Linked DNA regions of Homo sapiens: region 2 is linked to region 1. Evidence: fine-mapped expression QTL. A gene starts in region 1. The other region holds a variant in brackets. All regions are shown on one strand. Distances are between the middles of the regions. Region 1 holds the start of NCK1-DT (NCK1 divergent transcript). Region 2 overlaps STAG1 (STAG1 cohesin complex component).

Region 1 (5,527 bases):
TGGTGGCAGGCGCCTGTAATCCCAGCTACTGGGGAGGCTGAGGCAGAGAATTGCTTGAACCCGGCAGGCAGAGGTTGCAGTGAGCCAAGATCCCGCCACTGCACTCCAGCCTGGGCAACAGAGTGAGACTCCGTCTCAAAAAAAAAAACAAACAAAAGAAAAAGAAAAATATATATATATACAAAAAAATTAGCTAGGCATGGTGGCACACACCTGTAGTCCCAGCTACTTAGGAGGCCGAGGCACAAGAATCGATTGAACCCGGGAGGCAGAGGTTGCAGTGAGCCAAGATCGTGCCACTGCACTCCAGCCTGGGCAACAGAGACTCTGTCTCAAAAAAAAAAAAAAAAAAGAAAAGAAAAAAACCCAGAACCATGAAGTATCACTAAGTATCTCTTTTCTTTATTATTTTCCTTTTTAAATTTTTTTATATTTTCTTAATTTAGAGACAGGGTATCACTACATTGCTTAGGCTGATCTCAAACTCCTGGCCTCCAGCTATCCTCCCGCCTTGGCCTCCCAAGTGCTGGGATTACAGGCTTGAACTACCCCGCCTGGTCTCCCTCAGTATCTAACAAAACATTACACATAGGTTTTTTTTGTTTCTGTTTTTTTTTTGTGTGTGTGTGACGGAATCTTGCTCTGTTGCCAGGCTGGAGTGCAGTGGCGATCTTGGCTCACTGCAACCTCCGACTCCCGGGTTCATGCAATTCTCCTGCCTCAGACTCCCGAGTAGCTGGGATTACAGGTGCGTGCCACCACGCCCGGATAATTTTTGTATTTTCAGTAGAGACGCGGTTTCACCGTGTTGGCCAGGCTGGTCTCGATCTCCTGACCTCGTGATCCGCCTGCCTCGGCCTCCCAAAGTGCTGGGATTACAGGCGTGAGCCACCGAGCCCGGCCAACATTACACGTAGGTTTCAAATTTTATTTAGATGGACCTGAAAGCACTGCAGAAACCTGGACAAAGGATAATGCCTAGAAAAATAAATACACATTTTATTTATTTTTTTGAGACGGAGTCTCGCTCTGTCGCCCAGGCTGGAGTGCAGTGGCGCGATCTCGGCTCACTGCAAGCTCCGCCTCCCGGGTTCACGCCATTCTCCTGCCTCAGCCTCCCGAGTAGCTGGGACTATAGGCGCCCGCCACCACGCCCGGCTACTTTTTTGTATTTTTAGTAGAGACGGGGTTTCACCGTGTCTGCTAGGGTGGTTTCAATCTCCTGACCTCGTGATCCGCCCGCCTCAGCCTCCCAAAGTGCTGGGATTACAGGTTTGAGCTACCCCGCCTGGACTCCCTCAGTATCGAACAAAACATTACACGTAGGTTTCAAATTTTATTTAGATGGACCTGAAAGCACTGTCAAAACCTGGACAAAAGATAATGCCTAGAAAAATAAGTACACATTTTAAAATTTAATACATGAGCCAACAGCTGAGTAGATGTGAACACTCTGCAAACTATGTTTATGGATATTACAGCCAATTTCCACAGATCACAATTTTCCCAAAGAAGTCTCAGAGTTTGTGGTCAAGATGAAAAGAAAGCACCATTTATCAACCAGTGCATATTACTATCAAGTTGTGAATGGGATGCCTATTTAAGAATATCACAGACTCCACCCCCCACAAGAAAATTAAGTGTTTTAAAAAGAAAAGAACGAATATTATTGACAATTACCAAACAAAACTTTCTTCTTAGGTTATTTCTCCGTTTACTGTGTGACCTCGCCGAAGGCTGAGAGTCTAGGCACACTGGTTTCCAGGTGCTGAAGAAATCGTTATAGTTGGTTTGTCATACGTCTATCAAAGTAAAATTTTAAAAATGAGTACCTTTTGGCAACACCCGTTTTGGGAGGACATTGAGCTGCTTTGCTCCCTACCCAAAGAGGAGTTAGGAAATTCTCTTTAACCTAATTCTTTCCTAATTTCTAGGGCTTCTTACCTAATCTAACGTGCATAATTATTTTCAGGTGACTCCGGGTCCATCAGTTTGACACCGAGAGCGTTCCTACGGTTACGTCCTCACCCCTGAACAAAACCCAGCTTCCTGAGCTTCTAACGGCGAATTTAACTTGTATGTTAATACAGAAGAAAGGTTACAAAACCTATCGAAATGGTTTTTTGTTTTACCAAACATATTACAACTCAAGTCAAAAGTTCACAGCCCCAGCAACTCGCGTACGAATCTGAAGCAGGTCCAGACCATTAAAGTCACAGCCCCAGACTAGAAAACGGCCGGTGGGTGGGGGGAGGGGAGAGGGCGCGTCCCGAAGATGTCCACCCGCAGCACCGCGCAGGCTGACGCCTCCCCTCCTCTCGGGCTGGAGGTGAGAGCGCCCTTCCTCCTACCACGTCCCTACCTTCCCGGCCTCGGATTACGCCACAGCTGGCAAAAGGACTTTTTCATGAGAAAACAGACAAGTCAACCAGCGCGCCGCACACTCGACCTCCCAGGCTCGCACGGGCGGCCGCCCGGGCTCTCAGCCCGACACAGCGCTCCAGGGGCTGACAAGGAGGCCGCGGGGTCACGCTCCCTGGGGCAACGGCCCGAGGGTCTCGCGGAATCCCGGTGCAGAAGTCTGGACCCTCCGAGCAGCCTCCGCGCCCCCTCCGGCTCGGCTCCGAGCCTGCAGACGGCGCCCCCGGGGCTAACTCAGCGCGAGAAGAGGAAGCGACGCAGCGAGTAACAGGCTGTATGGACGGACAGCGGACTGAAGGGGGGTGTGTGTGTGTCTGCCTGCCAACAAGGCCGTCTCACCTTCCCGCTGCCGAGCCGGGCAGCTCCAGCTCACCTGAGGAGGGCTCCAGGACGCCACTGCGGCCGCCGTGATGGCCGTAACGGCACGAGGCCTGCGCTCCGCCGCCGCCGCGTAGCTCTTGGGAGAGAGGCGGGGCACGCGCGGTGGGCAGGCGGATCCGCGCGGGCAGGAAACCCACTCTGGACCCAATCTGATAGGTTCAGTCGCCCCCTTCCCCGGTCCCTGACGCGACAACGGTCTCTGCCGCACTGGGATTGGGCGGGCCCTCATGTCAATCAAGCGCCGTGCCTGATGTGGAGGGAGCGGAGGCTGCGCGGCGGAGAGTAGAGAGCTAGAGGGTGAGAAGCGCTGGGCCGGACCAGAACTGTCTTAGCTTTTCCCTCTGCGGCTGCTCTGGTTGGTTACTTTGAGCCTGCCTCCTCAGCGCCGCAGGAGAGACTTAACAGCAAAAATGACTGTGTCCTGAGTTCAGCCCCCACTGCTCTGGGAGCTTCCCCCTGGTTTCTGCACCTGAAGAATGTCATCCCAGCCGAAGGTTCTTAGGAGCGGGGAGCGACAAAGAAAAACAAAGAAAAGCAGACCTGAAAATTGGGACCTGGGAGAAATGTAAGACATGTGCTTAATTTGAGGCACAGACCAAAAGAAGCTGAGTCTGAGGGCCCTCTAAAAGTGTCCTCGTGCTTGGGCAGCTTACATTCTTGGCGGCAGTAGTGTTATGAAGAGGACCTTCGGAGCCAGGTCTGTCCATTCTTAGGGCTCCAGCCACTGGCTGAGGCATCAGTAAGTTGGTTCTTCCCCTCGCCGGTGCTGCAGGCCCCCTTCCCCGCCCCCGCGCCGTAACCTGCCTCTTTTTTTTTTTTTTTTGAAACGAGTTTCGCTCTGTCGCCAGGGTGGAGTGCAGTGGCACGATCTCGGCTCACTGCAACCTCCGCCTCCGGGTTCAAGCTATTCTCCTGCCTCAGCCTCCCGAGTAGCTGGGATTACAGGCATGTACCACCACGCCCAGCTAATGTTTTTGTATTTTTAGCAGTGACGGGGTTTCACCAGGATGGTCTCGATCTCTTGACCTCGTGATTCGCCAGCCTCGGCCTCCCAAAGTGCTGGGATTACAGGCGTGAGCCACCACGCCCAGCCGCCTCATCTCTTCTTAACCATCTTTGTGGCACAGTTTAGGATCGCTCCTCAGGGAAGCTTGCTCAGTTAGGTACCTTCCTTGGAGCACAGGTGTTTTCTCCATCCGAGCTATTGAAATGGTTTGCCTGTATGTCTACCTAGATTGTAAACTCCGTTGAATCAGTAACCATGTCTGTTCAGTTTCTCCCTAGGGCCTTGCAGTAGGGTAGATGGTCAGTAAATACTGTTTAAGGCATTAATACTTTTTATTTTAATCCTGGCCCTGGATATCAGCCTCAAAAGTTTGCAGTTTTCTGCATTTAACTTCAAAATTATTTACGTGATTGGTAATGCATGCATGTGGTTGGCCTGTGCTGTAATTTAGATGTTTGTTCCCCTAAACCTCCTGTTGAAATTTGATCCCCAATGTTGGAGGTGGGGACTAATGGGCAGTGTTGGGTCATGGAGGTGGTTCCTTCAGGAATAGATTAATGTCCTCCCTGGGGAGAGGGTAAATGAGTTCTCTTTATTTCCACCAGAGCTGGTTAAAAAGAACGTCGCACTTCCTTTCTTCTTTTGCGTCCTCTCTGGCCATGTAATCTCTGCACACACCAGCTCTCCTTTGCCTTCTGGCATGAGTAGAAGCAGTCTTAGGCTACCATCAGATGCAGATGCTCAGTCTTGAACTTTTCCAGACATCAGAACCATAAGCCGAAAAACCTTTTCTATTTCTAAATTATCCAGCTTTGGGTATTCCTTTCTAGCAACACTAAAGGGACTAAGACAGCCTGCCATATGTAGGATCACAAGGTCAAGCACAAATTTACCTATTTATGCTGTACTATCCTCAGGTTGACTGGGACAAGTAGACCATGAAACTGGGCAACAGCTACTCTATGTCTACATTCTGTTATTAGCATCCAAAGTGAATAATGGCGGTGAATTTTGAGTTTATTCTAAGGGTTTAAATAACTGCATATTTTATCATGACTGGTATGGACTGAATTGCATCCCCCCCAAAAATTCATACTGAAGCCCTCACTCCTAATGTGACTATATAAATGTTCCTTAACTTACAAAGGGGTTATGTTCCAATAAACCCACCATAAACTGAAAATACCTTAAGTTGAAAAGATCTTAAGTCAGAAATGCATTTAATGCTTCTAACCTACCAAACATCATAGCTTAGAGTAGCCTACCTAAAACATGCTCAGAATACTTACATTAGCTTTCAGTTAGGCAAAATCATCTAATACAAAGCTTATTTTTTAATAAAGTATTGAGTATTTCATGTAATCTACTAAATACTGAATGAAAAACTGGATGGTTTTATGGGTACTCAAAGTACAGATTCTAGAGTGCATATGGCTTTTGGACCATCATAAAGTCAAAAAAATCTTAAGTCAGGGACCATCTCTAGTTGGAGCTAGGCCTTTAGGGAGGTAATAAAAATTAAATTAGGTCATAAGGGTGGGGCCCTAATCCCATAAGATTAATGTCTTTATAGAAAGTGGCACCAGAGAGCTCTCTCCATTTGAGAACACAGCAAGCAGACAGACATCTGCAAGCCAGAGAGAGAGCCCTCACCCAAAACTGACCATGCTGGCACCCTCTTTTGGACCTCCCAACCTACATAACTTTGAAAAAATAAAC
Region 2 (5,000 bases), 470 kb after region 1:
ATACCAATTCCCAAATAATCCATAATAACTGTTGCCCTTGGGAGAAGAAAGATAATTATATTGGGAGGAGGTGCTGGCAATGTTTTATTTCTTGATGTGGGTGGTGGTTACACAGGTATTTTTGCTTTATATTCATTAAGCTTTATACTCATAAATGTATATTTGATATGACTGTTTTCACATTAAAATACTTTAAAAGAAGTAGAAATTTTCTTATAAAATGTGGGTAAATATTTTAGATTCAGTTATTTCAACTATAAAATTTGGATAAAAATAATTTCATCAGTCTCCTTTTAAAAATTTGACTAAGTAAAATATTCATGACACTACATTTTTGTTTAAACATAGTGCTATTTCAATCTGTATTTATTCCCATATGTTGTGTCTTTATTCTCCAGATTGATACATTGGTTTGTCCTTTTTAACCAAGTATTTTATACATTCTCATTAATTATACAAAAATTTGGACTTGAAGCTATACTATAAAATAACAACTGTGATAAATATTATCTTAGCACGGTGCAAACAGATGATCTCATTTTTTTGAATTTTTCATTAAAAAAATTTTTTTTCATTTGATACAGATAGTCGTGCAAGCACTGCAGTGTTCCCATTATTCGATTCTTTGGCAGTTGGTGAAAATTACTGATGGCTCTCCTTCCAAAGTAAGTAAGAGTTTCTGTAGGCAGAAGGGTTATTACTGAAATAATAACCTTGCTTAACTATTTAATAATTTACTATTATCAGTTATTGTATAATATAAATTATTGTAATATTTAATAAAATATATGACTATTACCAGTTCTTGGTTTATCTTATGAGTAAGTATACATTTACCTCTTTGGGAAGAGCCAAAATCTTCAAGCAAAAGACACATAGTTATGTGTGTGTATATATATGTACACACACACACGGATTAAAACTTCTTATATAAAATCACTGTAGTAGACACAAGAGCTCTGATAGGTAACATGCTATTAAAAAGAATAACATTGAGGCCGTGCACGGTGGCTTACGCCTATAATCCCAGCACTTTGGGAGGCCGAGGTAGGCAGATCACTTGAGGTCAGGAGTTCAAGACCAGCCTGGCCAATATGGTGAAACTCCATCTCTACTAAGAATACAAAAATTAGCTGGGCATGGTGATGCACACCTGTAGTCCCAGCTACTTGGGAGGCTGAAGCAGGAGAATCACTTGAACCCGGGAGGTAGAGGTTGCAGTGAGCTCAGATCACGCCACTGCTCTCCAGCCTGAGCGACAGAGTGAGACTCTTGTCTGAAAAAAAAAAAAATACAAAAATTAGCCGGGTGTGGTGTTGGGTGCCTGTAATCCCAGCTACTGAGGAGGCTGAGGCAGGAGAATCGCTTGAACCCAGGAGGCAGAGGTTGCAGTGAGCCAAGATCGCGCCATTGTACTCCAGCCTGGGCAACAAGAGCAAAACTCCATCTCAAAAAAAAGAATAACATCATTGAAAGATAGTAGTATGATACCTAGAGACACAAAGTGAACAACCCTCTTGAAGTTAAAAACAACTTAAAATGTTGGGTAAATTTTTTTTTTTTGAATTTTAATGTATCCATGACCATGCAAAACAAAGAAAAATGTGGGCTAGGGATTAAATGAAAAAAAGTAAGATCAAGAAAGCCAAAAAGAGCACTGAAGCCTGCTTTACCTTGAGGATGTTTCTCAAGGTCCATCCAGGATAGAATGTCTCATAGGTGGCCACATCTCCCAGATAATTTTGGGATCCTAATGACCTGCTCTTACCACAGGGGTGAACTAGAAATAAACGCACTCCAGTTTCCTTCAGGGGCTGGGGGATTATAAGGAAAAGAGTCTGTCTTAAAATTTGTCATTGATTAAAATGGGGAAAAATAAATCTCCCATGAAAGTTTATGACTTAGCTTTTGCATAGGTTTTCACCTGAATTCATACTATTTTGATGGTAAAAAAAAAAGAAAGAAAAAAAGTTGAGATTTTGATTAAGTGTTCTATAATGGTGGTAATCCCCAACCACCTAACAGAATCAAATCTAAATATCTTCTGAAGGAACTTGCCTTAAAGAATTTTCCACAAGTAAAACCTTAAGCAAAATGAGCTCACAGCAAAAATATCACTCATGAAAACAACCATGAAGAGAATCAGACAAAAAATACTTCACATTGGAATTATCTGACACAAATATAAATGTTTCAGTTATTTCATGTAATGAGAGGCCTGAACATGACTAAGAAGTAAACATTTGATAAAGAACCAAATAAAGATATTAGTATGTTTGTGTATCTCCTCTTAACAAAACAAGCTGTTTAACCAGTAAAGATGAGTAATGCATTTGCATATAGAACAAACAGCTTGATATGGAGTGTTATTTTTTCAGAGTAAGAATTTTTTTTCCTTTCTGAGTAACAATTTGAGGATCTCTGCATTTAGAAAGTAGTAGGATTTTTAAATTCTTTTTCATTAGAAGAATGGTAATATATTGGTTAGCCTCTTGGTTTTTCTCTTTTATTAATAATTTCAGTCTTGAAAAACAAAAATAACAGTTAACCTTTTATTAGTAATGAAAGCCACTTTAAAACTGTGTTACAGCCTGGTGCGGTGGCTCGCGCCTGTAATCCCAGCACTTTGGGAGGCCGAGGCGGGCAGATCACAAGGTCAAGAGTTCGAGACCAGCCTGGCCAATATGGTGAAACCCTGTCT[C/T]TACTAAAAATACAAAAATTAGCTGGGTGTGGTGGCAGGCGCCTGTAGTCCCAGCTGCTTGGGAGGCTGAGGCAGAAGAATCGCTTGAACTCGGGAGGCGGAGGTTGCAGTGAGCCAAGATCATGCCACTGCACTCCAGCCTGGGCGATAGAGCGAGACTGTCTCCAAAAAAAAAAAAAAAAAAAAAAAAAAGGCCAGGCGCGGTGGCTCACGCCTGTAATCCCAACACTTTGGGAGGCCGAGGTGGGCGGATCACAAGGTCAGGAGATCGAGACCATCCTGGCTAACACAGTAGTGAAACCCTGTCAATACTAAAAATACAAAAAAATTAGCCGGGCGTGGTGGCAGGCGCCTGTAGTCCCAGCTACTCAGGAGGCTGAGGCAGGAGAATGGCCGGAGCCCAGGAAGTGGAGCTTGAAGTGAGCGGAGAGATCGCGTGGCTGCACCCCCGCCTGGGCGACAGAGCGAGACTCTGTCTCAAAAAAAAAAAAAAAAAAAAAAAACTGTGTTACACTGGGCCTGGCGGCTCACGCCTGTAATCGTAGCACTTTGGGAGACCAAGGTGGGCGGATCACCTGAGGTCAGGAATTCCAGAACAGCCTGGCTAACGTGATGAAACCCTGTCTCTACTAAAAATACAAAGTTAGCTGGGCATCATGGCGCACATCTGTAATTCCAGTTACTTGGAGGCTGAAGTACGAGAATCGCTTGAACCTGGGAGCTAGAGGTTGCAGTGAGCCAAGATCTTGCCACTGCATTCCAGCCTGGGTGACAGAGCGAGCCTCTTGTCTTTTTTTGAAATGTTATTTAATATAGTAAAGTCAAAGGAGATTGAATTTATATATTAAAATTTGATAGGAAGGGTTTAATGATTTTACACAATTGCTTTTATTCTCACCCTTCTGATTGAGTTTTAGATAGTTTTTCCCACAGACGTCATTTTTGTTGAGTTACTTGCATTTTGGCTAAATATTGATTATTGCATTTAGCAAATTTAGAATATGTTATTCCGTAAAAATTCAGCATAATTGATAGTTAATTCCTCCTTGTAAATCTATTAATAATTTAAATTTTGTCTTTTTTTTAATTGAGATGGAGTCTCACTCTGTCACCTAGGCTGGAGGAGTGCAGTGGTGCAATCTTGACTCACTGCAACCTCTACCTCCCGGGTTCAAGTGATTCTCCTGCCTCAGCCTCCAGGGTAGCTGGGATTACAGGCGCATGCCACCATGCCCGGGTTTTTTGTATTTTTAGTAGAGACTGGGTTTCACCACGTTGGCCAGGCTGGTCTTGGACTCCTGACCTCAAGTGATCCACCCACCTCAGCCTCCCAAAGTATTGGGATTACAGGTGTGTGCCACTGTGCCCAGCCTAAATTTTGTCTTTTTACAACTATATTCCATAATTGGAATGAGAATCTCTATTCTTCAATCGACTTCTTTGAATATTTTCTATTTTTTAATCTTTTTACAGCAGAATTATTTTGAAATTCCTTGCCTTTTTTGTCTGACACATTCTCCTAATAAAAGATAGTTTTATTTTTGTATTAGTCATATTACATATTTCATTGGCAATGCAGATTTTGTTACCAGAACTGATTTTGTTTTGTTTTATTTTTGAGACAGGGTCTCACCCTGGTTGCCCACTGTCACGGCTCACTGTGGCCTCAACCTCCTGGGCTCAGGTGATCCTCCCACCTCAGCCCCTGAAGTAGCTGGGACTACAAGTGTGTGCCACCACGCCTAGCTACATTTTTTTTTTTTTTTTTTTTTTTGAGACAGAGTCTCGCTAGAGTGCAGTGGCATGATCTTGGCTCACTGCAGTCTCCGCCTCCCAGGTTCAAGCGATTCTCCTGCCTCAGCATCCCAAGTAGCTGGGATTACTGGTGCCTACCACCATGCCTGGCTAATTTTTGTATGTTTAGTAGAGACGGGGTTTCACCGTGTTGGCCAGGCTGGTCTCGAACTCCCAACCTCAGGTGATCTGCCTGTCTTCGCCTCCCAAATTGCTGGGATTGCCTGTCTTCGCCTCCCAAATTGCTGGGATTACAGGTGTGAGCCACCACACCCAGCCACGCCTGGCTACTTTTTTATATTTTTTGTAGAGATGGGGTTTCACCATATTACCCAGGCTAGTCTCAAACTCCTAGACTCAAGCAGTCCACCCGCCTCAGCCTCCCAAAGTGCTGGGATTACAGGTGTGACCCACTGATTTTCTTTATGCCAGAAAGAATGCTGCAGCATCTTTTATGTGTTTTATTCAGTTAATTACAATTTATAGTTTTATGTGCATTTATAGC

Evidence for each region. PIP is the estimated chance that this variant, and not a neighbour inherited with it, causes the effect. A credible set is the group of variants that fine-mapping cannot tell apart.
Region 2: its variant is the best candidate, but not a certain one, in a credible set for the expression of NCK1-DT in skeletal muscle (GTEx, PIP 0.60).

The regions. Positions count from the first base shown.
Region 1 is chr3:136,859,587-136,865,113 of GRCh38, reverse strand. NCK1-DT (NCK1 divergent transcript) reads left to right here and starts at 3,051. Exons shown (of 3, transcript NR_110177.1): 1 at 3,051-3,367. It overlaps NCK1 (NCK adaptor protein 1), which reads right to left and starts at 2,906. Exons shown (of 4, transcript NM_001291999.2): 1 at 2,761-2,906. RefSeq lists enhancers at 2,038-2,157, 2,168-2,247, 3,308-3,367, 3,928-3,977 and a silencer at 2,888-2,947.
Region 2 is chr3:136,394,414-136,399,413 of GRCh38, reverse strand. STAG1 (STAG1 cohesin complex component) reads left to right here. Exons shown (of 34, transcript NM_005862.3): 22 at 585-665. Among named protein-coding and RNA genes, the nearest start is that of PCCB, 150 kb to the right of the region's middle. The variant C/T (reference allele first, on the strand shown) is at 2,702.